Linked DNA regions of Homo sapiens: all the other regions are linked to region 1. The links come from fine-mapping of genetic effects on gene expression. A gene starts in region 1. Each other region holds a variant in brackets. All regions are shown on one strand. Distances are from middle to middle.

The links.
Region 2: its variant is fine-mapped to the expression of ENSA in whole blood (INTERVAL, PIP above 0.99).
Region 3: its variant is fine-mapped to the expression of ENSA in whole blood (TOPMed, PIP above 0.99).
Region 4: its variant is fine-mapped to the expression of ENSA in whole blood (TOPMed, PIP 0.99).

The regions. Positions count from the first base shown.
Region 1 is chr1:150,625,607-150,633,707 of GRCh38, forward strand. ENSA (endosulfine alpha) reads right to left here and starts at 4,006. Exons shown (of 4, transcript NM_004436.4): 1 at 3,808-4,006; 2 at 1,861-1,986; 3 at 36-202. The coding sequence starts at 3,864. It overlaps LOC112268239 (a long non-coding RNA gene), which reads left to right and starts at 4,213. Exons shown (of 2, transcript XR_007066603.1): 1 at 4,213-4,896. RefSeq lists enhancers at 569-1,100, 3,721-3,990, 3,733-4,700, 4,701-5,670.
Region 2 is chr1:150,598,284-150,606,384 of GRCh38, forward strand. It overlaps LOC107985203 (a long non-coding RNA gene), which reads left to right. Exons shown (of 3, transcript NR_186818.1): 3 at 5,837-6,001. It also overlaps the pseudogene LOC124900445. Among named protein-coding and RNA genes, the nearest start is that of MCL1, 23 kb to the left of the region's middle. RefSeq lists enhancers at 1-203, 6,347-7,185. The variant T/TTG (reference allele first, on the strand shown) is at 4,470.
Region 3 is chr1:150,558,909-150,567,009 of GRCh38, forward strand. It overlaps ADAMTSL4 (ADAMTS like 4), which reads left to right. Exons shown (of 19, transcript NM_019032.6): 16 at 54-257; 17 at 379-558; 18 at 853-997; 19 at 1,152-2,025. The coding sequence ends at 1,288. It overlaps ADAMTSL4-AS1 (ADAMTSL4 antisense RNA 1), which reads right to left. Exons shown (of 4, transcript NR_104133.1): 3 at 4,194-4,309; 4 at 1,987-2,314. It also overlaps the pseudogene RN7SL473P. Among named protein-coding and RNA genes, the nearest start is that of ADAMTSL4-AS2, 5.2 kb to the left of the region's middle. RefSeq lists enhancers at 930-1,099, 1,899-2,088, 2,879-3,058, 2,885-3,736, 3,737-4,590 and 2 more. The variant C/CAAG (reference allele first, on the strand shown) is at 4,796.
Region 4 is chr1:150,543,082-150,551,182 of GRCh38, forward strand. ADAMTSL4 (ADAMTS like 4) reads left to right here and starts at 6,327. Exons shown (of 19, transcript NM_019032.6): 1 at 6,327-6,418; 2 at 6,741-6,814. LOC124904417 reads left to right here and starts at 7,209. Exons shown (of 1, transcript XM_047438226.1): 1 at 7,209-8,101. The coding sequence starts at 7,209. The coding sequence ends at 7,979. It overlaps ADAMTSL4-AS2 (ADAMTSL4 antisense RNA 2), which reads right to left. Exons shown (of 6, transcript NR_187269.1): 6 at 5,483-5,669. RefSeq lists enhancers at 225-725, 726-1,226, 7,533-8,101, a cis regulatory region at 2,320-3,039 and silencers at 5,512-5,806, 5,738-5,887, 6,058-6,197. The variant C/T (reference allele first, on the strand shown) is at 4,694.

The sequences.
Region 1 (8,101 bases):
GTTGAGGAAGGGGAGGAGAGGGGGGCTCAGGTTACCCCGCAAGCTTGCTGGTGACGAGCGAGGACTTTCTCTGGGGCAGATCCTGTGGGGTGGGGATGTGATCACCAGTCACCAGGTTCTTGTCTGGTCCTGCACTTGGCAGCTGCTTATTCTTCATCTTGGCTTTGGCCATGTTGTAGTCTCCTGAGTCAAAGTACTTTTGCTAAGAGATAAGAGGGAGGTTTAGGTGAGTGAGGACTCTGGCCTTCCTCAAAAACAAGGAGACTCACATCTCACATCCATTATAAACCCTCATGCACACTCGGATCTTTCAAGAAGTCTTCCTTGATTAACCTCATGCATACACAGTTTAACATTAATTACATGTACTTATGTCTTCTCCCCAGTGTGTTCTGACTTTTTCAGGTACATAAGCAATTTCCCAGCTAGAGTATATAGTTTTGGAGTCAAGGGATAGCCCCTGCCATCCTTTGTACTCCACTCAGTAGAGGATCGTTCCACCAAAATCACTTATTCATAAAGGGTAACTGAGGACCTTACTGGGTACAGGGCAATAGCCTGGAACTGGAGAAACAGAAATGAATAAGATATAGAGAAGGATAAATATGGGGCTATCCTAGCCACCAGGAGATCAACCACAAGCCAACAACCTCAAAATGATTATTCTCCCAGACCAGGAATAGAAACTGGGCCTGTTCATGAGGATAATGTATTTTCCTTCTGACTCTCACAGCTCCCACACATGTTCCATGACTGTGACAGCCTGCCCACGCCTGCCTTGCCTCCAGCAAGGTAAATGCAAATCAGCATCACATTATCATCTGTGACTAAGACTCAATAACTGGGATCCTCCACAGGGATGTTTCACCCACCATTTCATCCGCACAGAGAAGCACACTCCAATGTAATGATTTATAATCCTACAGTCATTGCAGAGGAGAGTAAGGAAAATAAAAAAATTTTTTTTTGAGATGGAGCCTCGCTATGTTGCCCAGGCTGGAGTGCAGTGGCACGATCTCGGCTCACTGCAAGCTCCGCCTCCCGGGTTCACGCCATTCTCCTGCTTCAGCCTCCCGAGTAGCTGGGACTACAGGCGCCCGCCACCACACCCGGCTAAGTGTTTGTATTATTAATAGAGACGGGGTTTCACTATGGTCTCGATCTCCTGACCTCGTGCTCCGCCCGCCTCGGCCTCCCAAAGTGCTGGGATTACAGGCGTGAGCCACTGCGCCTGGCCAAATTTTTTTTTTAAAAAACGATAATATAATCCCTCAGTCAGCTTTAGGTACCTTTGGGAACTAAAAATCTGATCAGGAGCTACATGGCTATGAAAGTAGACTCTCTCTTGGTAAGGAGGACCACTCTGAACAAGAAAAATACATTTGCTGCAGGAGTATAATTAATGGCTGGTGCTCACTTCAAGGGTATGAAGAAACTGATTCATTTCAAGTTGAGGATTTATTTCTGTAGGAGAGATGGTTTGATCTTCTTCTGAAATGATGCATCCCAAAATTTATCTCTAATGCTTAAAAAGTGCACAATCCTAAAACCTCCAACATTCAAACAGGCAAATGCCTGGGGGCAGTCTGCATTTCAGTTTCTAACATCTTTCCCTCATTTCCCCACACACCCAAATGCTCCAATTTAGGCCTTAATTTCCTACATGGGAAATCAGGAGGGAATTGATACCACATCAGGGATTTACATTAATTTGACTTGCTCTTTTCAAATTTCAAATTCGCCTCTACTTCTGTTCAACAACAAAACCTCCAGAAAAGGATCCAGTAGAACCTCTACAGACTTCATTCGAAGAACCTCCTTTAGCTCCAAAGAAAGAGGGTAAGAGACTATGCCCCATACCCCTTTCTGGAGTCTCTTCATGAGGAAGTCGGAGCCTCCAGGCTTTTGTCCTAGGCTTGGGTATTTGGCCTTTAGCTTTGCCTCTTCAGCTCTCTCAGGCAGAATACCTTCTTTCTCCTGCGTGTCCTGGAGAAAACAAATGAGCCAAATAAAATTAAAGACTGAGAAACAACAGCTTCTCACATCTGATAACAACTATACTATCAACTTCTCCTGGAAATCCACCCACTTGTAAATACGCTATCTCTACTCTGCTGTTAAAGCTAGACCTTTGTTAAAATCCCTAAAGCTCAAGATGACTATTGTGAGAGAAAAAGACAAGCTGCTTCTCACACTTCACCCAAGGAACCAGCCAGGGACCTGTGCGTATTGGGCTAAAGGTAATACTAAACACAATACTTTAATCACAGAGTGGGCCATATCACTCAGCACAAATGCTAAGAAAGACAAAGAGAAAAAAGCAGGGCTTCTGGTGATAGAGGATGAGTAGCAGGGTTCCCTAGGCTATCCTACATGTCACATGAGAAATTAAAAAAAAAATAGTTTGGGGCTGGGAGCAGTGACTCATGCCTGTAATCCCAGCACTTTGGGAGGCTGAGGCAGGTGCATCACTTGAGCTCATGAATTCACTACCCGCCTGGGCAATATGTTGAAACCCCGTCTCTACAACAACAAAAAATAGTTTGCTAAATGTTTCCTCCTTATTTTTTTCTTTCTTTTTTAAAATTGCTACACGACAAAGCAGTTCCTTCTTTATTCAAGGTCTAAGCCACCTGTTAGGTCTCCCTGTGGAGGCGGCTAGCTATGTGGCCTTCTCCAAAGATCTCCACCTGAGTAATGGCACAGCCTTGCTTCAACATTTCCACAAATATTATGGTAGCAAGCTGATAAACAGAGAGGAAAATGATACTGTTTTTAACCTCAGGAAAACAAAGATACAGTAGGCTCACTAGTATTTACCCACCAGTTTTCATCAAAAAAATCAATACCTACCCTGGTGGTGCAGGGACTCTCACTACTGTAGTCAATCTCTTTTTTTTTTTTTTGTGGTCCCTGCTGCCCTTTAGTGACTTTTTGAAAAGATATGAAGTCAACGTATGACTCTTTTTAGTGGAATTATATTCCTTTCTCTTGGAAATTACGCATAGATATAACACCAAGTGTATTTAATGAGTACCTGAACCCAGTACTAAATTTTAAAAGTCAAATACAAACCCCAATAAGGGGTTTATTTGGCGTTAGTGTTTCCATCACGGAATCGCAGGTGCACTAAGTCCCTGCCTTGGAAGTCTAGGGGAAGAGAGAAGTGTCTTTCTCACGACCCTGTCGGCGTCTTTTCCAAGTTTAATTACCATGATTCTGTTTGGAACTCTAGCCCTCTTCAATATTGCTGGGTCCTCACTGAAGGTGAGCAATAGACCATCCTTAGCTACTAAAATAGGTCTCTTGAGAAAGTTGCCGCCTTAAACTAGCCATTATAATAACTACACTTCTCCCCTCCCCCAATACTGGTTTTTTTTTAAACGTCTTTACCTCGACCCCTATCTTTGCGGATTGAGGCTGCGGGCCCCAGCCCGGTTGCTGGGTCACTTACCTCTACAAACCAATAACACACATCACACCCAAGACCACCAGCCATCCCCTTTCCATTCACCGTCTTTCCAACCACCCGCCCCACGTCCATGCTCGGCCAATTATAGCACAGCGTCCAAGGTTTGAGCGGTAGGCCTATTGGCCAATCAGGAAGAGTACAGTACTGAGTGACAAACGACCCAACTAACCAGCGCCAAAGCAGCATGTCGTGTTGAAGCTCACCCAGCGTGACGCAAAAAGTGGCCAACCCCTGCGGAGCCTGAGACCATGGCGACCAATCCGCACTGGTGGGAGACCGTCTCCCGCCCCATCACGGTCTCCCCAGCTCGCCCGCCCGCACCCCTTCCACTTCACCTGCTTCTCCTCGCCGGTCTCCTCCGCAGGGTTCTCTTCTTCTTGTTTCTGGGACATGGCGGGACCGGGACTGTGGAGTGTAAGGGGCCCGGGAAGGCAACCGGAGAAGGGAAGGGGGAGGGGAAACGGGGACAACCTGCGCTGCTGCTTCGGCTCCTGTCACTAGGGTTGCTCAGTCAAAATGGCGGCCCTTGCCCGTGACGTTGCGACCGCCCCTTCCTATGAGAGCCAGTGGGAGTGAGGTAGATAGGGCAATGACGTAACGATCTACCAATAGTCGCCGTCTAAAGGTGGGCTCTATAGAGGCGACCGGCAAGCTGGAACACCAACCTGGAAAGAGAGTGAGCCACAAGGACCAATTGGAAGCCTGTGGGGGATATCGGGGGCGGGGCTGCTGGCTGTGGTACTTTTGCAGCTTTGGTGGGCTCCGGCTTCCTTCACTCCAGCCCACCGCGTCCGAGAGACTTAGCAGGGCGTCAAACTGGAGAGCGGAAGGATGGAACCTTTTATTCTCAGGTGGAGAGGATTAAGCTTTGCGGTGTTAGCAGAAAATGATCGAGCTCCAGAAAATGATTTGGAGGTCAGATTCGATTTTAAAGTAGTACTAACAGGCCGGGCGCGGTGCCTCACGCCTGTAATCCTAGCACTTTGGGAGGCCGAGGTGGGCGGATCACCTGAGGTTAGGAGTTCGAGACCAGCCTGACCAACATGGTGAAACCCCGTCTCTACTAAAAATACAAATATTAGCCGGGCGTGGTGGCGGGCGTTTGTAATCCCAATTACTTGGGAGGCTGAGGCAGGAGAATCGCTTGAACCCTGCAGGCGGAGGTTGCAGTGAGCCGAAATCGCGCCACTGCACTCCAGCCTGGGTGACAGGACGAGACTTTGTCGCGAAAAATAAAATAAAACGGTACCAATGGTATTACGATGTGTCACTTGGCCTGTGGAAGAGAGAGACTGAGTCTCAACCCGAGCTGTCTTGCAAAACACTAATGGCTTACGTTCCGTAGTTTCACTCTTATGTGTAGTTTTTATATTCCATCAGGGTGATCCCTTGGGGACTACGCTCCTTGAAACAAGGAGGACAGTGTAAGTATGTGGTAAACATTTGGTAAATACGGTTAATACTAGTTAACCTATCCAGAATTACAGTTTAACATTTCCTGGGCGTCTGTCTGTATGTGGATGGTACTGTGTTAGTTGGGGGGGGTACGTGTATAGTAAGGCAGTCTCTGCCCTTAGAAAGCTTACAGGCCTGGCTGGGCGCGGTGACTCACGCCTGTAATGCCAGCACTCTGGGAGGCGTAGGCGGGCGAATCACTTGAGGTCAGGAGTTCGAAACCAGCCTGGCCAACATGGTGAAACCCTGTCTCTACTAGAAATACAAAACAAGGCTGGGCACGGTGGCCCACGCATGTAATCCCAGCACCTTGGGAGGCCGATGAGGGTGGATCATGATGTCAGGCGATAGAAACCATCCTGGTCAACATGGAGAAACCCCGTCTCTACTAAAAATACAAAAATTAGCCAGGCGTGGTGGCGTGCACCTGTAGTCCCAGCTACTCAGGAGCCTGAGGCAGGAGAATCGCTTTTACCTGGGAGGCGGAGGTTGCAGTGAACCGAGATCGCATCTCGCCACTGAACTCCAGCCTGGGTGACAGTGAGAGTCCGTCTCAAAAAAAAAAAAAAAAAAAGAGTGGCAGATAAGAAGTGCTCTTTATGGAGATAATTTGGTGGTAATGAATAAAAAGACTCAGAATTCCAAGCAGAAAACTACCAGAGATGAACAGTCTAGCCGAGTCCTCTGCAAACGTTAGGTGGGAGATAATTAGGATTTAACCTAGAAACGTAGTAGTTAAGAATAGAAAATAGTGAACCTAACCAAGAGAGTCTGTGACAATGGAATCCACTAGACTAGCAGCTGACTGAATAGAGAATGAGAAGACTGTGTGCCTCAAGGTGATTATTTATAGAAACAATAAATTCAAGAAGAGGAGTCAATTTGGGAATGGAGCTGAAAAGCAGAGAGAAAATAAGGCATTCAGTTTTGAAAACATGGACTTTTTTTTTTTTTTTTTTTTTTTTTTGAGACGGAGTCTCGCTCTGTCACCCAGGCTGTAGTGCAGTAGCACAATCTCAGTTCCCTACAACCTCTGCCTCGCGGGTTAAAGTGATTCTCCTGCCTCAGCCTCCCGACTACAGGTGTGCGCCACCATGCCCGGCTGATTTTTGTATTTTTAGTAGAGACAGGGTTTCGCCATGTTGGCCAGGCTGGTCTCAAACTCCTGAACTCAGGTGACCTGCCTGCCTCGGCCTCCCAAATGCTGGGATTACGGGCGTGAACCACCGTGCCCGGCCTGAAAACATGGACTTTATTAAAAGCGAATGAACCATTTGGTGGAGACATCCAGGCAATGAAGACTTAGGATAAATGACCTCTAAGATCTCCATATCTGAAATTTAAGGGTTCTAGGAAATGTAAGTGTGGGAGTTTGGGAGAAAAGTAGACGCTGAAGATGTACAAATTTTGGACTTTTTCACATAAATGTAAGTAAAGTTGTGGAAGTTGATGGGATCACAAAGGAGAATGTAGGAAAAAAAGAGGTTCCAGTCAGGTGCGGTGGCTTACACCTGTAATCCCAACACTTTGAATGGTCAAGGTGAGAGGATCGCCTGAAGCCAGGAGTTTGAGGTTACAGTGAGCTATGATCATGCCATTGCACTCCAGCCTAGGCAACAGAGTGAACCCGTCTCTTAAAAAAAAAAAAAAAAAAAAAACTCCCAAGACAGAAACGTGGGGAAAAGTTGGCAAAAGACATACAAATGATCAGAGTGGTAGGGAGAGAATTAGAAGAGAGAAGAGCCATGGAAAGCAAATGAAGAAAGGGAGGGCAGGTTGTCAATGTTAAATGTGATACAGAAATTAAAGATGGAGGTGATAGAGGTCAATCGCAAGACGTTAAGGAGCGAGGAGGTGGTACCAATATTGAACAGTGGTAGCAATATTTAACAGTAAAGCAAGGAAAGGGCAGAGCTGTAGCAGCAGATTTTCTTTTGGGGAATAGGCAAGACTCAAGCATGTTTTTAGAAAAGGCGAATGAGGCTGGATGTGGTGGCTCACGCCTGTAACCCCAGCACTTTGGGATTCATCTAAAAGATGAATAATTCTTTTGGGAAATACTTTCTGATCAAGCTATTTCTAATTCCAAGCTCTGCTTAAGAATAATGTGTAAAAACTATGATTGCTAAAGGAACGATTGATTTAAATTATACATTTGTCCTTTTTTTTGAGACTGAGTTTAATTCTTGTTGCCCAGGCTGGAGTGCAATGATGTGATATCTCGGCTCACTGCAACCTCCCCCTCCCAGGTTCAAGTGATTCTCCTGCCTCAGCTGTGGGGAAAAGAAAGAGAGATCAGACTGTTACTGTGTCTGTGTAGAAAGAAGTAGATATAAGAGACTCCATTTTGTTCATCTTGTGAGTCGATGGCGCACGATTGCGGTGTTTCTGTCTCCGTGGAGGTGCTTTTCTTTGCATCTCCGATGGGTTCATTGTAGAACTTCAAATGTCTAGTGGGTATCCAAACAGGAAGCTGATTTTCTCCTGGTGAAACACAAGCAAAACCTCTCCCCCATGTTACCACCTTCCCTATTTCCCATGTCTTATTTTTATTATCTTTCTACCAAATCAGTTTTCCTTCATGTGGGCTGTTCTTTTTACCAGTAAGATGTTGTTCTGCAGAAGTAGTAGTCTGATTTCTATAAATGTTTAAAAAATATAAAGTGCTAGATTAAGTTGCATCTGAGGCGTGGTACATTCCTTACTGTCTCCCCCTTCTTTTTATTTAACTAATTGAGTTTTGAGTGTTCTATTAGTTCTTTCAACTATGGCCTGTCCTTGGGAATTATAAGGAATTCCTGTTGTATGTGAAATTTTCCACTGACTTAAGAATTTTTGGAAAGCTTTACTACAGTATCCTGCCCCATTGTCAGTTTTAATTTTTTCTGGAACTCTCATTACAGCAAAACAAGGTAATAAATGTTTTTTAACATGGGAAGTACTTTCTCCTGTCTGGCAGGTTGCCCATATGAAATGTGAATAAGTATCAACTGTTACATGAACATATAATAATCTTCCAAATGAAGGTACATGCGTGACATCCATTTGCCGTAATGCATTAGGACACAGACCCCTGGGATTAACTCCTGCCTCTTGAGTGGGCAGGTGTAGGACTTGACACTGGGTGCAATGTCGTACAATATCTTTTGCCTGTTTCCATGTGACATCAAATTT
Region 2 (8,101 bases), 27 kb before region 1:
CAGTGAGCTATGATCTCACCCATGTATACCAGCCTGTGTGACAGAGCAAGATCCTGTCTCTAAAAAATAACTTAGGAGAGACAACAAAAATATGGGCAAAATAAGGAGTTAAAATGGAGGACAATACAAATGGTATATACATACATGCCCATACACATATACCTATAATCTCTACACACGCATGTATGTATATGTGTGCATGTGTAACTTTTGCTTATCTTTCATTCTGGCAAAAATGTAAATGACCAGGCCAGGTGTGGTGACTCATGCCTGTAATCCCTGTACTTTGGGAGGCCGAGGCAGGCGGATCAACTGAGGTCAGGAGTTCAAGACCAGCCTGGATAACATACAGTGAAACCTTGTCTCTACTAAAAAATACAAAAATTAGCCGGGCATGGTGGTGTGCACCTGTAATCTCAGCTACTCAGGGGGCTGAGGCAGGAGAATTGCTTGAACCCAGGAGGTGGAGGTTGCAGTGAGCCAAGATCATGTCACTGTAGTCCAGCTTGGGTGACAGAGTGAGATTCTGTCTCTAAAATAATAATAATAGGCTGGGCGCGGTGGCTCACGCCTGTAATCCCAGCACTTTGGGAGGCCGAGGCGGGCGGATCATGAGGTCAGGAGATCGAGACCATCCTGGCTAACACGGTGAAACCCCGTCTCTACTAAAAAAATACAAAAAATTAGCCGGGCATGCTGGTGGGCGCCTGTAGTCCCAGCTACTCGGAGGCTGAGGCAGGAGAATGGCGTGAACCTGGGAGGCGGAGCTTGCAGTGAGCCGAGATTGTGCCACTGCACTCCAGCCTGGGCAACAGAGCAAGACTCTGTCTCAAAAAAAAAAATAAAATAAATAAAATAAAATAAAATAATAATAATAAATTAAATGACCACTCATATCTAATATCAAGTATTAGAAAAGTATGGGCAAATGGCCTATAGCAGTCTTACAAGGTTGGTGGGAATATAAATCAATTTAGGGCAATCTGTAAGTACATATTACAATTTTTTTCAACAGTGTAAGGAGGTTTTTGTTTGTTTTTTTGTTTTGTTTTGTTTTGTTTTTGAGATAGATTCTTGCTCTGTTGCCAGGCTGGAGTGCAATGCCATGACCTTGGCTCACTGCAACCTCCGCCTCCTGGGTTCAAGCGATTCTCCTGCCTCAGCCTCCCAAGCAGCTGGGACTACAGGCGCCTGCCACCACGCCCAGCTAATTTTTGTATTTGTAGTAGAGACAGGGTTTCACCATGTTGACCAGGATGGCTTCAATCTCTTGACCTTGTGATCTGCCCGCCTTGGCCTCCCAAAGTGCTGGGATTACAGATATGAGCCACTGCACCCGGCTGTAAATAGTTTTTAAATTGTGGATATGTAACAATAGACAAAATTATTTAAAGTCAATAAATTTTTATTCAAGGAATTCCATGTTGTGATTTCTTCCACTGTCCATCAAGGTCACTTTAGATCCTCTAAAGAGCTGGAGTCAAAAGATTTATCTTCAAGTTAGCCTTTTTAATGAAACTGATCCAGTTGTCCTGTCAGCCCATAATTACTTTGGCTTCCTGTCGTCTCCTTTTAATGTGGATATACTGATGAAGACTTCAAAATTCACCAAGAATCTTTGGGATCTAATTTCTTCAACCAATTTACTTTAGGGTCCTTTATACTGTCGGTCGTGGGGATCTGCCAGGTTATCAATTTGACACCTTAAGCCATCTCACTCAAGAATAGTACAGATGTGTGGAATATGCCAATACCTTTAACTCCAGACATCATGTTCTCAAGATAAAAGCTTTTAAAACAAAAAGCCATCGTATGTCTCATCAACATGAAATTGGAATGCAAAATTAATACTGCTGAGGATTTCCCTCATATCCCATGCTGTTTAACTATCTATTCTACAGTCCTAGAATCAATCTTTTTTTTAGGAGACAAGGTCTTTGTTACGAAGGCTGGAGTAGAGTGGTGCCATCAAAGCTCAGTGCAGCCTCCAACTCCTGGGCTCAATCCTTTTGCCTCAGCCTCCCCTTCCTGAGTAGCTGCAACTACAGGCACACGCCCCAATACCCAGCTAGTTTTTAAATTTTTGTGGAGATGAGGTGTTTGTTACTTTCTTGCCCAGGCTGGTCTTGAACTCCTGGTTTCAAGCAATACACCCACCTCAGTGTGGGGATTGCAGACTTGAGCCACTGCACCTGGCCTGGAACCAACCTTTATGGCTATCAATACTCCCATCAGTTAACTGTCTCAGGTATCATAATATCCCTTCTTATATGTATCAAAACTCATACTGAACAATGAGTTCTGGGTTGCAAAAAGTACATATTAAAATTTTAAATGCTGGGCACGGTGGCTCACACCTGTAATTCCAGAACTTTGGGAGGCCGAGGAGGGCAGAGCACGAGGTCAGGAATTTGAGACAGCCTGACCAATATGGTGAAACCCCGTCTGTATTAAAAATACAAAAATTAGCTGGGCATGGTGGCACGTGCCTGTAGGCCCAGCTACTCAGAGGCTGAGGCAGAAGAATCGCTTGAATCCGGGAGGCAGAGGTTGCATTGAGCCAGAATCCGGGAGGCGGAGGTTGCATTGAGCCAAGATTGCGTCACTGTACTCCAGCCTGGGCAACAGAGCAAGACTCTGTCCCTTTAAAAAGAAAAAAAAAATTTAAATGTGCATACCCTGTGACCCAGCAACTTTCAATATTTACCGTAGAGAGGCCAGGTGCAGTGGCTCATGCCTGTAATCCCAGCACTTTGGGAGGCCGAGGTGGGTGGATTACCTGAGGTCAGGAGTTTGAGACCAGCCTGGCTAACGTGATGAAACCCCGTCTCTACAAAAAAATTACAAAATTAGCCGGGCGTGGTGTTGCATGCCTGTAATCCCAGCTACTCAGGAGGCTGAGGCAGGAGAATCGCTTGAACCCAGGAGGCAGAGGTTGCAGTAAGCAGAGATCATGCCATTGCACTCCAGCCTGGGCGACAAGAGCAAAACTTTGTCTAAAATAAAATAAAACAATATTATATATATATATATTTATAATATATTTATATTTATATATATTTATAATATATTTATATTTATATATATTTATAATATATTTATATTTATATATATATTTATATTTTACCCTAGAGAAATACTCCCATATGGCACTAAGAGGCATAAAGAATTTTCACTGAAACATTGTAATAGCAAACAATTGGAAACAATCTATATGTCCAACAACAGAATGGTTAAGTAAGCTGTGATACATTCATACTATAGGATACAATATAACAGTTCTTATGAATGAGACATCTTTATATGTATTGAGATGCAAGTTCTCTGAAACATGTTAAGGGTAAAAAGAAGATCTGGAATAATACAAACCATGTGATACTTTTTTTTTTTTTTTTTTTTTTGAGACAGGGTCTGGCTCTATTGCCCAGGCTGGAATCCAGTGGCACTATCATGGCTCATTGCAGCCTTGACCTCCAGGGCTCAAGCAATCTTCCCACCTCAGCCTCCCTGTAGCTGGGACTACAAGTGTGTGCCACCACACCTGGCTATTTTTTAGTTTTTGTAGACACAAAACTATGTTACCCAGGATGGTCTCAAACTCCTGGCCTTGAGTGATTTTCCTGCCTTAGCCTCCCAAAGTGCTGGGATTACAGGTGTGAGGCACTATGCCCGGTTCATTTATGTTTTAAAAGTCTCATATAACTAGCCGGGTGTGGTGGCTCATGCCTATAATCTCAGCATTTTGGGAGGCCAAGGCAGGCAGATCGCTTGAGTCCAGGAATTCAAGATCAGCCTGGGCAACATGGCAAAACTCTGTCTCTACAAAAAATATACAAAAATTATCCAGGCGTGGTGGCATGTGCCTGTAGTCCCAGCTACTCTGGAGGCCAAAGTGGGAGGATTACTTGGTCTGGGAGGCAGAGGGTGCAGTGAGCCAAGATCATGCCACTACACTCCAGTCTGGGCAACAGAGTGAGACCGTCTAAAAAAAAAAAAAAATTCCCATATATTTCTACATGTAAATACATAGAAAAAGGGCTGGAAGGATATATAATCAATATTAAACAGTGTTTATCTCTGGAAGGAAAGGACCAGGACTTGGAATAATGGCAAGGAAGCCTTGTTTGTAGTTTTTTTTTTTTTTTCATCGTTTTTGAGGAGTCTCACGCTATCGCCCAGGCTGGAGTGCAGTGGTGTCATCTCAGCTCACCGTACCTCCGCCTCTCCGCCTCCTGGGTTTAATCGATTCTCCTGCCTCAGCCTCCTCAGTAGCTAGGATTACAGGTGTCTGCCACCACGGCCAGATAATTTTTTTTTTTTTTTTTTTTTTTTTTAGTAGAGACAGGGTTTCACCATGTTAGCCAGGCTGGTCTCAAACTTCTGACCTCAAGTGATCGGCCGGCCTCGACCTCCCAAACTGCTGGGATTACAGGCATGAGTCACCAAGCCCGGCTTTTTTTTTTTTTTTT[T/TTG]CTTTTTTTAATTTTTTTTTTTTATTATACTCTAAGTTTTAGGGTACATGTGCACATTGTGCAGGTTAGTTACATATGTATACATGTGCCATGCGACCGGCTTTTTTTGTTGTTGTTGTTTTTTGTTTTTGAGTTGGAGTCTTGCTCTGTCATCCAGGCTGAAGTGCAGTAGCATGATCTCGGCTCACTGCAACCTCCACCTCCTGGGTTCAAGCCATTCTCCCGCCTCAGCCTGCCGAGTAGCTGGGACTATAGGAGTACACCATGCCCAGCTAATTTTTTGTATTTTAGTAGAGATGGGGTTTCACCATGTTGCCCAGGCTGGTCTCAAACTCCTAAGCTCAGGCAATCCGCTCACCTTGGCCTCCTAAAGTGCTAGGACTACAGGCGTGAGCCACCATGTCCAACCTGTAGTTTTGTTTTTTTTTTGAATGAAGGTTTTTAATGTTATATGTTGTATAAAATTAATGCATTAATTTATTATTATGAAATCAAAACAACCCTACCTTACCCCGAAAATAACACCTGTAGGTTTTTGTCAGTTGTCAGATGGGCATCTTGCTATGTTGCCCAGGCCGGTTTCAAACTCTTGGAGCTCAAGCTACCTTCTGCCTCAGCCTCTAGAGCAGCTAAGACTACAAGTGTGCACCACCATGTCCAGCTTAGGTGTCAGTTTGATATGAGTCAGTAGCATAAGTAGTAAAGAAAACCTAAGGGGGCCTTGGGCTCTCCTACGGTCCAGGTCTACAAGCAAGCAGGTAATGGTTTAGTTCTATTTGGCTTGGTGAGGCCACATCTGGACCAAAGTTAGACAGGCACACTGACACATTTGAGCTCATCCAGAGAGTAGACAAGGTGATGCCAGGAGTCCACACTATGTCAAGGAGGACTAGCTAAAGGGAGGGAAAATGTTTAGGCTAGTAGATGTAGAAAGAGGTGGTCCTCAAACTCTTGACGTTTTCATGAGGGTGAAGATAGTAGATTTCAAGACACTGGAGTTATTCAAGAGACTAAATATTCACTTTCCAGGGATACTGTGAAAAAGATTCACTGAGGAGGCATTCGTTGGAACTAGATTTTTTTTTTTTTTAAGAGACAGGGTTCTGCTGTGTTACCCAGGCTGGTCTCTAACTCCTAAGCTCAAGAGATCCGCTTGCCTCAGCCTGCCAAAGTGATGGGATTACAGGGTAAGCCACGTGCCTGGCCTGGAACTAGATTATCTTAAAGTTAGTTTCCAACTAACTTTATTTCAATTTATTTCAAGTTTCCTTGAAATAAATTGAGTTTTCAATTTATTTCTGGTTCCTTGGCCTCAACCAGATTTATTGAAATTTAAGTCCCTAAAACTGTCTTTTGTTTTATTATAGAGAGGATATTAACCAGAAGGTTACATACTACAATCTGGAAGGAATAATCTCAATATCATGAGTGCCAATTAAGTGCCTCAGAGAATACAAAGGTGACCATAACTGGAATGCTTAACAAGTACCAACTGAAGAAATGTAATGAAAATTAAAGTTTAATTTGTTTTCCCCTGTCTCTGCACAATTTATTTCAGTGGGAGAGGTTTTCCTCAGATGTGGATCACCTTTAGGTAATAGTCTTTGCAACCACTTTAAGTAGCAAAACATACTCTTGGTCCGAAATATATTAACACATCAATTTTCATCATAGGTAAGAATCTCTCTACCCCACAGCTAGGGTCAACAGAGCCAGCCAGCTCGCCTCTGTGAAAGAGGGGGTAGTTGGCTTCTCTCCTTTTGCTACACTGATATTTCTAGGAATGGGGCAGAATGAAGAGGAAGGGTTATTAGTGGCTTCATGCTGTCTAGGCCTGGCTGATGTTAAGAATTATCTCATGAGCATTTGTATGGCTCCATCAGAGGCTTCCCTGGGGGCGCTTTCCAAAGGCAGTGGCAACTTCCTGAAGTGAGGTGATGTATTCTATTTCTATAGCCACCACTCTCTCATTATCCTTTTGTTTTCCAGTGTTCTTTTCCACATGAAGAGCCCCACTATGCATCCAGGCAGTTCTCTTGAGTAGGATTTAAACTGGCTCCACACATGGTCCACAGGATTCATGTATATCTGACCGTTTATCAGAAGCCAGTGTGGTGACTTCCAGGATGTGACTCTCTACTTTGTTACATCAGGCTCTGTTGTTAGTCAGCTTTTGCCTTGAAATTCCTCTACCGTGAGTCATACACAGTCTAATGATTATCCCTTACCCAAGGACAAATACAAAATGTTTCAGTGGTCTTGAAGCCACTGTCTCTAGGATTGAGAAGATAGAATTACTCCTCACCTCATCTCTTTTTTTTGGGGTGGGGGATGGAGTTTTGCTCCCCCTGCCCAGGCTGGAGTGCAGTGGTGCGATCTCAGCTCACTGCAACCTCCACCTCCCAGGTTCAAGCGATTCTCCTGCCTCAGCCTCCTGAGTAGCTGGGACTACAGGCACCCGTCACCGCGCCTGGCTAATTTTTTTTATTTTTAGTAGAGACGGGGTTTCACCATGTTAGCCAGGCTAGTCTCGAACTCCTAACCTCAGGTGACCTGCCCGCCTCAGCTTCCCAAAGTGCTGGGATTACAGGCGTCAGCCACCTCACCTGGCCCTTCCCCACCTCTTCTCTTTGGGATTGAATAGGGCTCACAGCATGGTAGTAGCTCTCTCCAAAGAAAGCTCTTTTATAAACCCAATCTCCGCTTTTTTGTTGTTGTTTTTTTTTTTTTTTTTGAGACAGGGTCTCACTCTGTGGCCCAGGCTGAAGTGCAGTGGTATGATGATGGCTCATGGCAGCCTCAAACTCCTGGCTCATGTGATCCACCTGCCTCAGCCTCCTGAGTAGTAGCTGGGATTACAGGCATGCACCACCATGCCTGGCTAATTTTTTTTTTTTTTTTTTAGATGTATTACTCTTGCTCTGTCGCCCAGGCTGGAGTATAGTGGTGCGATCTCAGTTCACTGCAACCTCCACCTCCCGAGTTCAAGTGATTCTCCTGCCTCAGCCTCCAAAGTAACTGGGATTATAGGCGCCCACCACCACACCCTGCTAATTTTTGTATTTTTAGTAAAAACGGGGTTTCACCATTTGGCCAGGCTGGTCTTGAACTCCTGATGACCTCAAGTGATCCGCCTGCCTCAGCCTCCCAAAGTGCTGGGATTACAGGCATGAGCCTCTGCCCCTGGCTTTTTAATTTTTTCAAATTTTTTATTTTTTTTTTGAGACGGAGTCTTGCTCTGTCACCAGGCTGGAGTCCAGTGGTGCAATCTCGGTGCTCACTGCAATCTCTACCTCCCAGGTTCAAGTGATTTTCCTGCCTCAGCCTCCCAAGTAGCTGGGACTACAGGCACGTGCCACCATGCCCAGCTAATTTTTTGTATTTTTAGTAGAGACAGGGTTTCACCATGTTGAGCAGGATGGTCTCGATCTCTTGACCTCGTGATCCGCCCACCTTGGCCTCCCAAAGTGCTGGGATTACAGGCTTGAGCCACTGCGCCCGGCCTAATTTTTTAATTTTTTTGTGGAGACAAGGTCTCACCATGTTGCCCAGGTTGGTCTTGAACTAGCCTGAAGTGATCCTCCCACCTCAGCCTCCCAAAGTGCTAGGATTACAAGAGTAAGCCACTGCAT
Region 3 (8,101 bases), 67 kb before region 1:
CTTGTGCCAGTCACCAGCAGGCCCCTCACACAGGCCGCTCTCCTCCTCCGCAGTGCTCAGCCGAGTGTGGGACGGGAATCCAGCGGCGCTCTGTGGTCTGCCTTGGGAGTGGGGCAGCCCTCGGGCCAGGCCAGGGGGAAGCAGGAGCAGGAACTGGGCAGAGCTGTCCAACAGGAAGCCGGCCCCCTGACATGCGCGCCTGCAGCCTGGGGCCCTGTGAGAGAACTTGGCGCTGGTACACAGGGCCCTGGGGTGAGGTAAGCTGAGCGCCTGCTGAGAGCAGGAAGGGGGTGCCAGTCCCAGTGGGATTCCTTGTGGGCACTTGGGGTGCTCTCTGTCCTCCCCTCCCCTCATCACCCTGCCCTCCCCCTACACTAGTGCTCCTCCGAATGTGGCTCTGGCACACAGCGTAGAGACATCATCTGTGTATCCAAACTGGGGACGGAGTTCAACGTGACTTCTCCGAGCAACTGTTCTCACCTCCCCAGGCCCCCTGCCCTGCAGCCCTGTCAAGGGCAGGCCTGCCAGGACCGATGGTTTTCCACGCCCTGGAGCCCAGTGAGTGTCTGGCTGCGCTGTCCTGCCCTGCTCAGCCTGGGCCCCTAGGGGAGGGGAGCTCCTCTCGCTGTACCCCCTCCAGGTCTCTCTGTGCCCCAGAATAAGCCCAGCCAAGCGTTACCACTGTCCTACTTCTTATAGACTTGGAGGAAAGATGGGCCCTCTCCATTTGGGATTTCACAATGTCCTAGGAGGGTCCCCACCACCACCTTTTGGGGAGAGAGGTGGCAGCCAGGGGTTAAGGAGAATCCCGGGCCTGGCAAAGGTCTGATATGATGGCTGGGGTCGCCCCAGTGTTCTCGCTCCTGCCAAGGGGGAACGCAGACACGGGAGGTCCAGTGCCTGAGCACCAACCAGACCCTCAGCACCCGATGCCCTCCTCAACTGCGGCCCTCCAGGAAGCGCCCCTGTAACAGCCAACCCTGCAGCCAGCGCCCTGGTAAAGAGCCCCCTCTCCCCAATCCCCAATACAGTGGATTAGCTGAAGTATGGGAGGAGATGAGAAAGGACCAGTGGGAATGGGCAGCACACCCATTCCCAGACGGGTGGGTCCTGGTGACTCTCTTGTGCCCACTGGCCTCCTCTGTCCCCAGATGATCAATGCAAGGACAGCTCTCCACATTGCCCCCTGGTGGTACAGGCCCGGCTCTGCGTCTACCCCTACTACACAGCCACCTGTTGCCGCTCTTGCGCACATGTCCTGGAGCGGTCTCCCCAGGATCCCTCCTGAAAGGGGTCCGGGGCACCTTCACGGTTTTCTGTGCCACCATCGGTCACCCATTGATCGGCCCACTCTGAACCCCCTGGCTCTCCAGCCTGTCCCAGTCTCAGCAGGGATGTCCTCCAGGTGACAGAGGGTGGCAAGGTGACTGACACAAAGTGACTTTCAGGGCTGTGGTCAGGCCCATGTGGTGGTGTGATGGGTGTGTGCACATATGCCTCAGGTGTGCTTTTGGGACTGCATGGATATGTGTGTGCTCAAACGTGTATCACTTTTCAAAAAGAGGTTACACAGACTGAGAAGGACAAGACCTGTTTCCTTGAGACTTTCCTAGGTGGAAAGGAAAGCAAGTCTGCAGTTCCTTGCTAATCTGAGCTACTTAGAGTGTGGTCTCCCCACCAACTCCAGTTTTGTGCCCTAAGCCTCATTTCTCATGTTCAGACCTCACATCTTCTAAGCCGCCCTGTGTCTCTGACCCCTTCTCATTTGCCTAGTATCTCTGCCCCTGCCTCCCTAATTAGCTAGGGCTGGGGTCAGCCACTGCCAATCCTGCCTTACTCAGGAAGGCAGGAGGAAAGAGACTGCCTCTCCAGAGCAAGGCCCAGCTGGGCAGAGGGTGAAAAAGAGAAATGTGAGCATCCGCTCCCCCACCACCCCGCCCAGCCCCTAGCCCCACTCCCTGCCTCCTGAAATGGTTCCCACCCAGAACTAATTTATTTTTTATTAAAGATGGTCATGACAAATGAGAAATGAGCTCTTCCTTGTCGGCTATGGACCCCTCAGCAGTGTGAAGGCAGAAGGTAGGGTGGGCAGGGGAACAGCATTAGAGCCCAGGAGAGTTTGGGTCAGAGAATCCCCGCCAGCCCCAGGCCCTGCAGGCTGGTCATGGGCCACTAGAGGTCACCAGTTCTCCCATTTGAGGTGTGGGGCGCTGGGTTCCAGAGCTGAAGGAAGGGCTGCGCGGCCGCGGTGCGCTTTTTGGTGGGTCGAGTCTCTCTGGGAAGTCTCCGGGTATCTGCGCCTTTCCGCTGGGGCCTGAGCGAAGGGCAGTTGGCTTGTCGAAGCTCTTTTTTCCTGTTCCCTTTCTCTAGCCCTGCCTTCTGTCTCCCTTTCTGCCGTACGCATATCCCTACGCTCTGGGGCTTCTTCTGGGGTGGGGAAAGGGAAGGGATTCCTGCCCCGAGCCCTTCCCCTGGAGGAGGAGGAGCCCGGCCCGGCTCCAGGGCCCTGGGCGGGGCTGAGGGAGGAGCGGGGCAGCACTGGATGTCCTGCCAAAGCCACATTCCTCAGAGATGGCTCAGCCTGGCCTCCTTCCTCCTCCTACTCGCTTCTCTCAAGGTAGAGAACTTGCTAGAGGCGGCCTGAGAGGGGCAGGCCTTTGCCATCACATCCTCTCCCAGACCCCTGCCATTCGGAGACTGAGGCCGAGTCTCTCCTGGAAGCCGGGCTGCCCAGGAGGGGCGGTGCCGCAGGAGCGCCCCCGCTCGCGACTCCACAAGCCCAGCTGAGCACGGCCGGGAATACGGGGCCTGCGGAAACAGTGAACTCAGTGGCTGCTGTTTTCTGAGCACCTGAACCCTGTGGGGGACGACAGAGTTGCCCGAGGCGGCAGGATGTCCCCACACTCGCGGTCCCCCGCACATCTTCCTGTTGCTTTGGGACTCGGGCTTTCTCTGGGTTGAAAGTGGCTGAGAAGGAAGAATTTGGACATCTTAAGAGGAGAGCGAGTGGGGAAGGAGGCAAAAGGGAATGGAGAAGGAAGATAAAACTGACGTCAGCCCAGGGCAGGGAGCGAGGAAAGGGGGCCACAAGGAAAGCCCAGTTCCAACGTCTCTGCTGAGCCTAAAGAGGCCTCAGCAGGGAATCACAGATGTGGGGGGCCAGGGAAACGGGATCCGAGCCCGCCCAGTAGGTATAGAAGGCCGAAGGCAGAGTCCTGAGACCCAGGGAGGGGTGGGGTGGAGGCTGGGGCCCTCCCAGCGATTCCTGGAAGCCCAGAGCTGGGCGGTGCCGGCTCAGCTGACTTCCCCGAAGCTCCCCTCCCTCTGCTCAGGGCTGTTGCTGGGCAGGTTTGGCGTTTGCCCTGAGCCTGAGAACCAATCGCAGGTGGAGGTGCGGTCGCAGCCCCTCGCAGGGCTCCCCGGCTTCAGCACCCCCTTTCTCTTTCTGCCCGCCCATGAGCTCCCTCTCGGCCTCCAGCCTCTGACCTCTCAGGAGGTGGGCTCTCCTCTGGGGGTCTGCTCCCTTTCCCCTCTTATTTTAGAGCTAGGACTCAGTGCAGCCCCTAAGGATTCCTTCCTCTGGTCACTGAGGTCATTATGGGGTCAATGCGGAAGTTCTCAGGAAAGGGAACCCGACCCCAAGCAATCCCTTTTCTTGGCCCCGTAGAGGGGAGTAGTGTGGCCAGACACCTGTTCGCTGACCTCTGAAACCCTCTGGGGGGACTTGGGAGAGCAGAAGCTGCAGCCTGAGGGCAGAGGAATGTGGGGAGGGCCCCTGGGTTTGGTGCACTAGTGGGAATTTAGGGAAGGACTCAGAGGAACTGGACCCCTGAGAATTGAGATGAGGGTGGGGTGGTGATAGGAACAAACTTGATATGCACAAGAGAGATCAAGCATGCAAAAGGCCTGCAAATTGTTGAGGATGCCTCCTTTCTGAGGGTGTGCTGGGGGAGGGGGTTGTGGTTTGAGTATCAGTGACACTAGGGGTGATCTGTGCTCTCACAAGTTCAGCTGGGTCAGGATTCCTCTCCCCTCCCCCTCCCAGCTTCCCCAGGGTAAATACCCACCCAATTTAAGTTGCAGCTTTTGGACTAAATTTAGCTCCTGGACTTCCCCAACCCCCAGGCCTCCCTGTAAGCAGGTGCTCACAGCTGCAGCATGGGTCTGGTGGAGAGTTTGAACCTTCTCCTCACCTCCACTCATCCAGATTCCACCTTTCTGGTAACTAGGAGTGAAGCAGAGCACAGGAATCCAGTGGCTGGCCCAGGGCATAAGTGTCTCAGCCTTAAGCCACCTTCTCCCAGGAAACCTGTAAGAGAAGAGCTCTGGTGGGAGACTCTAGATGGACATGGAGGGTGGTGGGGTGTAGAGAGAACAAGATGCCAGGAGAGCCTCCCTCCAGATTCTCTCCAGCCAGACCCTCTCTCATTCCTTGCTCTCCCCTTGTCCCCAGGTTTACAAATAGAGACTTCATGTTAGCATCTTCCCCACCAGAGTAAACTGACCCAGGAAGCCCTCTCCTCTCTTTGAACCATGGAGAATCATGCTACCGTAGAAATTATGGTTTGGGGAGGTGTGTGTTTCAAGTAGAGGTGGTTTGCCACAGGTAGGTGATGAAGAGCTGTCAGCTTTAAAGGGCAGAGACACCGTCTAAAGGAAGTAGAAAGCCTCAGGAAAGTACCTAAGTCTAAGTCTGTCAACAAGAGACAGAAAAAGTTTGGGTTAACCTCAAAGTAGCCAGCATAAACCCTGAATCTGACTTTTGGGCTTCCTGACCTAGGAGACTGGGAAAACT[C/CAAG]AAGAGGGTGTTTCAGGGCTGAGTCTGAAGGAAGAAAGGATTTGAGGGAGGAATGTATAAGATTAGTCCAAAACAAGGTATGCACGAGATATGGCAGTCAGATGCCAGGGAGCCATCAGCTCTGCCAGCTGAAGGGGAGGTGCAGAGTTGGCTGGAAGCTGGCCAGAGCAGAGCATTTCTCCTGTGAGCACTGGAGAGCTGTGCTGAGAGGCCTGGGAAGAGCCCTGTGCTGGGGGAGGAAGGCTAGGTTGGGTCGGCATGTTTGTGTGCTGTACTCTTCTGAGCCTTACCTGAATCTCTTGAGATAGCTCCACTGAACTTTGAGTGAAGAGGAAAAGAAACTGGGGGAAAGAGGGTGGGATTATAAAAAAAGGAGCAGACTGTACCCCTGGGATCCCTAGGCTAAAAGGCCCTCCCCTTGATGAGACAGGCAGAGATCATCTCCCCTGGAACAAGGTCACCCTTCCTCTCTCCCATCGCTACATTCCTCTCCTCCTTACTGTTGACTATTGGTTGCCTGCCTCTTTCATCACAAAATGAGACTCCTCTTTAGCTTTAGTAGAGGGTTGGGCAAACTTTTTCTCTACAGGAGTAGATGATAAATATGTTAGGCTTTGCAGGACCTATCATCTCTGTTGCAGCTTCTCTACTGTAGCAGCACAAAGCAGCCATAGACAATAAGTAAACAAATGGGCGTAGCTGTGTTCCAATCAGACTTGTGACACTAAAGTTTTAAATTTTTCTTTTTTTTTTTTTGAGACAGGATCTTGCTTTGTTGCCCAGGGTAGAGTGCGGGGGTGGGGCGCAATCATAGCTCACTGCAGTTTTGACCTCCAGGGCTCTAGCCATCCTCCTGCCTCAGCCTCCCAAGTAGCTGGGACCACAGGTGCAGGTCACCACACCCAGCTAATTAAAAAATTTTTTTTTGTAGAGACAAGGTCTCACTGTGTTGCCCAGGCTGGTCCTGAACTACTAGGCTCAAGCAGTTCTCCCACCTCAGCCTCCCAAAGTGCTGGAATTACAGGCATGAGCCACTGTGCCCGGCCCATTTTTTTCAACCATTTAAAAATACCAAAATGATTCTTAGCTTGTGGGCCATACAAAAACAGGCAGCAGGGCAAATTTGGCAGGGAGGTGGTTTCTGACCCTGGGGATTTTTCCTAACTGGTGACTTCTGCTCTGCCTAGCCATAGAAAGTCCTGTTTGTGTCTCTTCCAGGCCTCAAAATACAGCTGTAGAACCTTTTAATTCAACATACTCTACTGATGCCTGGTTCTTAATTGCTTCTCCTAGGGAATTTAAGGACTTGAAAATGGTTAATAGAGTAAACCCTTAAGGGACAGTCCTGAAACTCCTTCTATTTGTGTAGTGCTTTAAGGTAAAAGCACAAAGCACGTGTATCAATAGTCTCTCTTTAAATCTTTGCGGTAATAAGATAGCTGACAGTATCGTTAAGTCCTGTTTATAGGGGAGAAAATTAAGGCTTCAGATCTAGTTTCTTCACTTTTTTTTTTTTTTTTAGATGGAGTTTTGCTCTTGTTGCCCAGGCTGGGGTGCAATGGTGTGATCTCGGCTCACTGCAACCTCCGCCTCCCGGGTTCAAGCAATTCTACTCACTCAGCCTCCCAAGTAGCTGGGACTACAGGCATGTGTCACCACGCCTGGCTAATGTTGTATTTTTAATAGAGACAGGGTTTCACCATGTTGGTCAGGGTGGTCTCGAACTCCTGACCTCAAGTGATCCACTCGCCTCGGCCTCCCGAAGTGTTGGCATTACAGGCACCACGCCTGGCCAAAAACACTTTTAAAAATTTATTTTTGGTTAGACACGGTGGCTCACGCCTGTAATCCCAGCACTTTAAGAGAGGCCAAGGCAGGGAGATCACCTAAGTCCAGGAGTTGAAGACCATCCTGGCCAACACAGTGAGACCCTGTTTCCATTTATGTAAAAATAAAAGAATTTTTAAAAATTATATGTATATTTTTAAGAGACAGGGTCTCACTATGTTGCCTAGGCTAGACTTGAACTCCTAAGCTCAAGCAATCCTCCCGCCTCAGCTTCTTGAATAGCTGGGCCTATGGGGTGCCTGGCTTCCTTCTTTTCTCTTTTTTTTTTTTTTTTTTTTGAGACAGGGTCTTGCTGTGTCATCAGGCTGAAATGCAGTGGCACAATCACAGCTCACTGCAGCCTCAACTTCCTAGGCTCAAGTGATCCTCCTGCCTCAGTCTCCCTAGTAGCTACGACTACTGGCCATGAGCCTTCTATTACTCAGTTTCATTCACACGGGGCATCTTGTTATCAAAATAATTTTGGCCTCAATGATCCAAACCTTGAATAGTTTTTTGTTTTGTTTTGTTTTGTTTTGTTTTGAGACAGAGTCTCGCTTGGTCACCCAGGCTGGAGTGCAGTGGTGCAATTTCGGATCACTGCAACCTCCTGGCTTCAAGTGATTCTCCTGCCTCAGCCTCCTGAGTAGCTGGGACTACAGGCACGCACCATCATGCCTGGCTAATTTTTGTATTTTTAATAGAGAAGGGGTTTCGCCATGTTGGCCAGGCTGGTCTTGAGCTCCTGGCCTCAAGTGATCTGCCTGCCTTGGCCTCCCAAAGTGCTGGGATTACAGGCATGAGCCACTGTGCCCAGCCCAAACCTTGAATAGTTTTAAGTGTTCTTGCTGTTTTTTTTCAAATGTCTTTCAGGACTTTTCAGCTAAAATTCTGTTTAAACTTTTTCAGACTTTCAAGAAATTAGAAATGCTTTCAAATTCATGATAGTTTTGTGTCATTTATACCCAATCCAGACTTATTTAGACCAAACAGCCTTTTTTTCCTACCAGTGTTTTCCAATTTTTATCTTAAGAGGCAGGGTCTTGCTATGTTGCCCATGCTGGAGGGCGGTGGCTATTCACAGGTGCAATTCTACTACTGATGAGCACAGGAGTTTTGACCAGCTCTATTTCCAACGTAGGCAGGTTCACCCCTCCTTAGGCAACCTGGTGGTCCCCCACTCCCAAGAAGTCACCATATTGATGCGGAACTTAGCATGAACACCAGATCAACATAGCGCACTATAGCCCTGAACTCCAGGGCTCAAGTGATTCTTCTGCCTTAGCCTCCAGAATATCTGGGACTACAAGCGCGTGCAACTGCGCCTGGCCAATTTTCCTGGGTCCAGGAAATGACAGTATTCCTGGTCTTTGTTTAAGGTACACTGTCTTGCAAACATAGGCTTATGTATAATGGTAAGCCACAAGCATTTACTAAGTTTTTTTTTGAGACATAGTCTCACTGGCCCAGGCTGGAGTG
Region 4 (8,101 bases), 83 kb before region 1:
CCAACCTGGGCGACAGAGCGAGACTCCATCTCAAAAAAAAAAAAGAAAAAAATATAGGAGTATATCTTTTTTTGTTGTTTTTGTTTTTTGTTTTGAGATGGAGTCTCGCTCTGTTGCCCAGGCTGGAGTATAGTGGCGTGATCTCGGCTCACTGCAACCTCCGCCTCCCAGGTTCAAGCAATTCTCTTGCCTCAGCCTCCCGAGTAGCTGGGACTATAGATGCCCTCAACCATGCCCAGCTAATTTTTGTATTTTTAGTAGAGACGAGGTTTCACTATGTTGGCCAGGCTGGTCCTGAACTCCTGACCTCGTGATCCACCCGCCTTGGCCTCCCAAAGTGCTGGAATTACAGGCGTGAGCCACCGCGCCTGACCGAGTATATCTTTTTTAAAAAAGAAAATAAATAAAGAAATAAAGTCTACATAGCGGTGACTGGGAGACCAGAATATCCCATTCATGTCTTGGTCCTCATCGTACCAAATGGATCACATCCTGTTTCTTCATCATTTCATCAGGTGCAAGGCAGTTGGGCCGTGATGGGGCAGGACAACAACCAGAAAATGCTGGAATGTGGCCAGAGCTGAGGCAGTGCTCACCCCACACACATTCATTAAATGCCTACTGTGTGCAGAGTGAGGTGGTGAATACAAAGGTAAACACAGCAAGGTGGTCTCACCCTCCAGTCCCTGGAAGAGCACAGGTCACCACTGGCTGCTCTCATAGCAGCTGCCTAGTATGGGCGGCTGCGTCAAGCCAAAGCGGAATGGTCAGAAGAACAGCATCAGTGAGACAAAACAGTGGAGACAGCATGACAGGACACGGACTCAACGGCTGGAAGCCAGCCTGGCGCGCAGCAATTGGGAATGGGGTGTCTGTTTTGGAACAAAGGAGTTGAGCAACCATGATTCGGAGAGGCAGAAAAGCAAACACCAGGCTTTCCGAAAATGGTTGCTATGACCACAAACCTAAAGACAGACAGCTGCATGTTCATTTCTGGGCCCCAACTGTACATATTATTGGTATTAGCATCAGCATTATCTTGGAATAGGGACAACGTCTTATATGAGGCATTCATTCAAAATGTTATTTAATTTATAAAACTTCCTTATGCTACTGCCAGGGGAAAAAATTATTAAGTAAATTCAGCTAAATTTCTGGAAATTTTATTTGCATACAATGTATACAAATAACAGCGCCTAATTTAGAATCCTGGCTCTCTCACTTTCTAGCTGAGAGATTAGAGACAAATTAGTGGATTTGTCTTTGTGTCTTTGTTTGCAAATCTGTAAATGGTGTAACAGTCTCCACCTCACAGGGTTACAATGAGGACAGAGTGAGGTAATGTGTGTAAAGCTCTTCTAACAGCCCGGTCGGGGGCACAAAGTAAGTGCTATATACATGTTAGCTATATTATTATTATTAAATCAGTATGTTGAGCTCAAAGTCAGACCAATGTCAGCCTGTCCCCTCTTTTTTTCCTTATCTGTCCAATCTTTAGAGATAATTTTGGATGAACATCTACTTTTCTTTTTTCTGAGATGGAGTCTCGCCCTGTCACCCAGGCTGGAGTGCAATGACACGATCTCGGCTCACTGCAACCTCCGCCTCCCGGGTTCAAGCAATTCTCCTGCCTCAGCCTCCCGAGTAGCTGGGATTACAGACGCCTGCCACCACGCCTGGCTAATTTTTGTATTTTTAGTAGAGACGGGGTTTCACCATGTTGGCCAGACTGGTCTCAAACTTCTGACCTCAGCGATCTGCCCACTTCGGCCTCCCAAAGTGCTGGGATTACAGGCTGGATGAACATCTACTTATTACATAATCTTTTTAAAAACGTCTCTCTTTTTTTTTTTTTTTTTTTTTTGAGACGGAGTTTCACTCTTGTTGCCCAGGCTGGAGAGCAATGGTGCAATCTGAGCTCACCGCAACCTCCGCCTCCCAGATTCAAGTGATTCTCCTGCCTCAGCCTCCCAAGTAGCTGGGATTACAGACATGCGCCACCACGCCTGGCTACTTTTCTATTTTTAGTAGAGACAGGGTTGGTCAGGCTGGTGTTGGACTCCCAACCTCAGGTAATCCGCCCACCTCAGCCTCCCAAAGTGCTGGGATTACAGGTGTGAGCCACAGTGCCCGGCCTTAAAAACTTCTTTTTAAAAATTATTTATGTATTTGTTTATTTTTGAGACAGGGTCTTGCTATGTTGCCCAGGCTGGTGTCAAATTCCTGGGCTTAAGCAATCTACCCACCTCAGCCTCCCAAAGTGCTGGGATTACAGGTGTGAGACACCGCACCCAGCCTAAAAACTTTTTATCCTGGAGACAGTGTCCACAAACTTAATCTGGTATTTCACAAGTTGCTGAGGCATAGGAAACTCTTTTCTTTCTACAATATTTTCAGACCACCAAGCCATGAGAGGTGACAGCAGTAGCAAATCTCATGAGCTCTTCGGTGAGCAGCCATTTCTTAGTGGAAAGGACTGTATCTGACCTTCAGTTCTCAGCAGTTACAAATGTCAAAGGCAGACCTTTTCTCTCCTCCCAGGCTCCCCTCCCACACTCCTGTCCTGCAGCTTCCCTCCCTGTAGATAAGTGAATGCTGATGAGGTGTGACTGGGCCAGGACTGAAGGGTCCCTGGCCCAAAATATCTTCCTCTGCCCGGAAGGCTGGGCTTCTCATCATCTATATCATACTCTGAGGTCTGGGGAAAGGGGCTTCCCCTTCAAAGCTAGCACTATAAATATGTCTCCAGGTTGTCACCAGGAGTCCCTAGATAAACCACCCCTCTGGGAGGGGCATTAACCTTTTATCTTCTCAACCCATGTAGGAACTCAGGACTCAGATGGAGGATGAGGAGAGGCACCTCCCAGAGGCGCAGGTCAATCTGACCCGCTTCATGTTTCGTGGTGTACTTCGTGTTTTCAAGTTGTTGTTGTTGTTTCAGTGACTTATCAAAAAAACAAAACTCTAATATAAAATAGGAAAAAGTATAGATGATACAAAGTAGCATAAATAGTCCTTTATTCTGAAAGAACTTAGTGATTTACCGAGAAAAAATATGCATGTTAAATTTCAAATAATGATACAATTCTTTTTCTCCTTTCTTTTTTCTTCTTCTTTTTTTTTTTTTAGATATGGGGTCTTGCCATGTTGCCCAGGCTGGACTTGAACTCTTGGCCTCAAGTGATCCTCCCACTTCAGCCTCCCGAATCGCCAGGACTACAGGTGCCTGCAATTGTACCCAGCTCGGGACACAATTCTTACATTTTCTTTTCTTTTCTTTATTTTTTTGAGGCAGAGTCTCGCTCTGTCACCTAAGCTGGAGTGCAGTGGCATGATCTCAGCTCAATGCAACCTCCGCCTGCCAGGTTCAAGCAATTCTCCCTGTCTCAGCCTCCTGAGTAGCTGGGATTACAAACGCCCACCACCACACCCGGCTAATTTTTGTATTTTTAGTAGAGATGGGGTTTCGCCATGTTGGCTAGGCTGGTCTTGAACTCCTGACCTCAGATGATCCGCCCGCCTTGGCCTCCGAAGGTGCTGGGATTGCAGGCATGAGCCACCGCGCCCGGCCCAATTCCTACATTTTGAAAGCATTTTACGTTTTCATATCCATCATCTTCTTAGAGATAACATCTCCTTCAGCTGAGCCCAGTATTAACCTTCGCATGACCCCATTACCTGCCGTGTCTGTGCCTGATCAGACCCAACTCCTTGAGGCCAGAGACTTCTTGCTGCTTCTTCAACACCAAGTGCAAAAGGCGCCCAAAAAATGACAGGTGGGGAACCAAAGACCTCTGATATTTTGTGAGGATGCAGGACAATGTTGTTAGAGCTTCTATTTTTGTGTTTTAGTTTTTCAAGAGAAATTTTAAAATATCCAGGTTTTAAAATACGTATTGACAAGTTATTTAAAAAAAAAAAATGTGCCTTTAGGTTGGGCCCAGTGGCTCACACATGTAATCCCGGCATTTTAGGAGCCCAAGGAAGGAGGATTTCTTGAGCCCAGGAGTTTGAAACTAGCCTGTCTTAAAAACAAAAAACAAACAAACAAAAACCTTTAAAACACTGAGTAGACCCAACAAAATACAACGCGTCAGTAAATAGAAAGTAAAAATATAGGCCGGGAGCAGTGGCTCATGTCTGTAATCCCAGCACTTTGGGAGGCTGAGGCGGACGGATCATGAGGTCAGGAGTTCGAGACCAGCCTGGCCAACATGGTGAAACCCCATCTCTACTAAAGATACAAAAAATTAGCCAGGCGTGGTGGCTCGTGCCTGCAATCCCACCTACTCAGGAGGCTGAGGCAGGAGAATGGCTTGAACCCAGGAGGCAGAGGTTGCAGTGAGCTGAGATGGCGCCATTGCACTCCAGCCTGGGTGACAGGACAAGACTCCTTCTCAAAAAAAAAAAAGTAAAATATAAAAATAGCAGTGACCATTTATTGTCTACTCTATGCCAGCCATTTTACATATTTTATTTATTTATGTGTTTATTTTTTGAGACGAGGTCTCTCTCTGTCGCAGGGGCTGGAGTGCAGTGGCACGATCATAGTTCACTGCAGCCTCAAACTCCTGGGCTCAAGCAATCCTCCCCGCTCAGCCTCCTGAGTAGCTAGGACTACAGGCTTTCACCACCATGCCCAGCTTACATATATTATTTATAATAAATAATAGCCAGGCGCGGTGGCTCACGC[C/T]TATAATCCCAGAACTTTGGGAGGCCGAGGCAGGAGGATCACTTGAGGTCGGGAGTTGGAGGCTAGCCTGACTAACATGGAGAAATCCCGTCTCTACTAAAAAATATAAAATAAGCCAGGCATGGTGGCGCATGCCTCTAATCCCAGCTACTTGGGAGGCTGAGGCAGGAGAATCACTTGAACCTGGGAGGCGGAGGTTGCAGTGAGCCGAGATCGCGCCACTGCACTCCAGCCTGGGCAACAAGAGTGAAACTCCATCTCAAAAAAAAAAAGAAAAAAAAAAGATAAAACTAATAGATGGATTGCTCTTGTGGTTAAAAAAATTCACAAAAATAACATTACATAGCTGGGTGCGGTGGCTCACGCCTGTAATCCCAGCACTTTGGGAGGCCGAGGCGGACGGATCACGAGGTCAGGAGATCGAGACCATTCTGGCTAACACGATGAAACCCCGTCTCTACTAAAAATACAAAAAATTAGCCGGGCGTGGTGGCAGACGCCTGTAGTCCCAGCTACTCAGGAGGCTAGGGCAGGAGAATGGCGTGAACCTGGGAGGCGGAGCTTGCAGTGAGCCAAGATAGCACCACTGCACTCCAGCCTGGACGACAGAGTGAGACTCCGTCTCAAAAAAAATAAATAAATAATAATATAATAATAATAAACATAACGCAGAGTAAAAAGCAAAAGCCTTTTTCAGTCCTCCCCCAACCCTGCATCCCTCCCCAGATGTCACCAATACTACTGAGTTTGGGGTGCATTCTTCCATGTATAAATGCATAAAGAGACATATCCAAGCCCATCATATATATTAGATTAGTCCCATTTTGCAGATGAGCAAACTGCACCACACAGGGGTGGAAGTATTCGTCGAAGACCACATAGCTGGCAAGAGCTGGAGCTGAGGTTCAAATCCAGATCAGTCTGACTCAGAAGTCAGCACGCTGTCCTTTCGCTGAGTCCCGAGTGTAAAACCTTACTGAGGAAAAAAACCGAAGCTCATAGAAGTCCCAGCAATCTGAACCACCACTGCCCAACACGGGAGAGGCAGGAGTGACTGAGTTTGCAGGGGAGGCTGCGTGGAGGGGAGAGCCTGGACCCACGCGGATCGGGGGCCGCGGGTACCTCCGTCCAGGGCGCTTCCCTCCCGGACCAGCGGCTCTCCCAGGCCGCCTCGCTCCAGGCGCCCCTGGAGGCTGCCCCGCCTGTGCCGCGCCGCGCCGCGCCGTGTTCGCACCGCTCACCCGAGCGGCTCGGAGGCCCGGGTTGCTTAAGTCCCTAGTCTCAGCCGGGCACGAGGACAGCGCCCGGGAGCGACTGCAGCCTCTGACCCCGGCTGGGCCAGCCCGGGCTGCTTAAGTCCCTAGTCTCGGCCGGGCACGAGGACAGCGCCCGGGAGCGACTGCAGCCTCCGACCCCGGCTGGGCCAGCCCGGGCTTCAGCTCACGCAGCCGTCGGGGGGCGCCCGGCGCGCAGCCCGGGGTGGGTGGTCCTGGCGAGTGGGGCTGCGAGGCAGACCGGCCCCACCCCGGGGCCGCCGAGGGGCGCGGGCTGGGGCGCGTGGCGGGCGGGGCTGGGCGGGGGCGGGCGCGAGGGCGGAGTTGCGGCCGAGGCGGCCGTGACCGGAGCGCGGCTCAGGGGCCCCAGTGGCCGCCGCGGAGCGAGGTTGCCTGGAGAGAGCGCCTGGGCGCAGAAGGGTTAACGGGCCACCGGGGGCTCGCAGAGCAGGTAGAGACCTCCCCGGGACCCCGGCCCCGGCCGCCCCTCTCCCGGGTCCCGTTAGACCGCCCGCCCCGCGCGCCCGCGTCGTCCCCTCTCCCTGCGCTGTGCGGTCGCGACCCCGCCACGACCCCGGACCCAGCTCCGGTGGCCTCGGACAATCTTCCAGCCCCTGGGGTCGAATTCCTGGGGAGGGAGTCTGATCCCGTGGAACTCTGGCCCCATCACCCGGGCGGGGAGTGAACCAAAATTCCTCCTAAGTCACATAGTAAAGTTGGAAAACAGACCCATGACCTCCCCGCGCGGCCGGTGCCTCCTGCCCTCTCTCTAGGAGGGTGCTCTCGGACGGTGTGTCCCCCACTGCACTCCTGAACTTGGAGGACAGGGTCGCCGCGAGGGACGCAGGTGGGTGCCCTTGATCCAGCTCAGCCCGATGGCAGAAGAGGTTGACAAAAAAGAAAGACACCTGTTGGGGTGGCCTGCCAGACCCAGGAGTGGAGGGCTCTGAGGGCCCGGGAATTCGGACTCAGGACAGGGATTCTCCATGGCTAGGCCCAGAAACACAGGGTCCAACCACTCTCCAGCAGGGAGACCTGGGGGTGAAGGGGTGAGCCCTGCGCAGGTCTCTGTTCCTTGGTCTTCACTGGGCAGTGTGGAGAGGTGTGGCCAGGAGGAGCCCGCGTTTGTCCAGACCAGGGTCTACTCTGGCACCAGAGTGACCACCTCTGACCTCTCCTTTCCTCGTCCTGGGCCGGGAACGACACCAAATGAGGGACATGGAAAGGGGTGAGAAGCATAAATGTGCGTGTGTTTCTGCAGAGGAGGGGGCATGGGCCCCTGCCGGGCTGCGCAGGGGAGGGTGGGGTGGGACTTTTCCAGAGAGGGAGCCAGGCCTGGCCCGGGCCCCGGGAGCTCACGTCACCCCCACCCCTCACTTCTCCAGGGAACTGCCAAAGCCAAACCCAGCTCGGGATGGGATTATGTGTACTGGGTAGACCCGTGGAGAGGGGCTGCGAGAAGAGATCTCGGTGGCAGAGAGAAGCAGAGGCAGAGAGGGCATGAAGAGGGGTCGGCATCAGAGAAGGGGCAGGCAGTGACTATCACCCCATTTCTTCTTCCCTCAGCTGGAGTAACAAGAGTCAGGCAGAGCCTGAAGACTTGGGTGGAACATGGGCCCTTCTCTGGAGATCCTGGCCTCCCCCGTTCAGTCAGGGTGGAGTTGCTGACCTTAGTGGCCGGCCCAGCCAGGGGAAGGAGTGGCCATCGGCAACCCCCACCCCAACCCCAATCCCTGAGGCGCCCGCTCTGGCTCAGCCACTCTGACCCCTCCCTCAAATTCCGAACCCTAGGTCTCAGGGAGGGCAGTGGGGCTGAGTGTCTGCCCCCAGGCACATTCCTACCCTTCTCTTGGTCATTTTCTGCCCCAGAGCTGGCCCACCTCAGCAATGCGAGGGCTCCCTGGATTCCTCTCCCGGGTGCCTTTCAGATCCAACAGAAACAGATTTTTTTTTTCCTGGAAAGCAGAACTAAGAGTGGGATGAGGAGCAGGGGTGGGAAGGACTCAAAGTGAGAAGAAGGGGGCAAAGAGAGTCAGGCTTGGTGGCTGGGGTGGCTTCCAAGCCTCACTTCTCCAGTGTTCAAAGCTGAACTTCAGATGGACTTCCCGGCTCTTCAGAATGAGAGGCCTGTGGC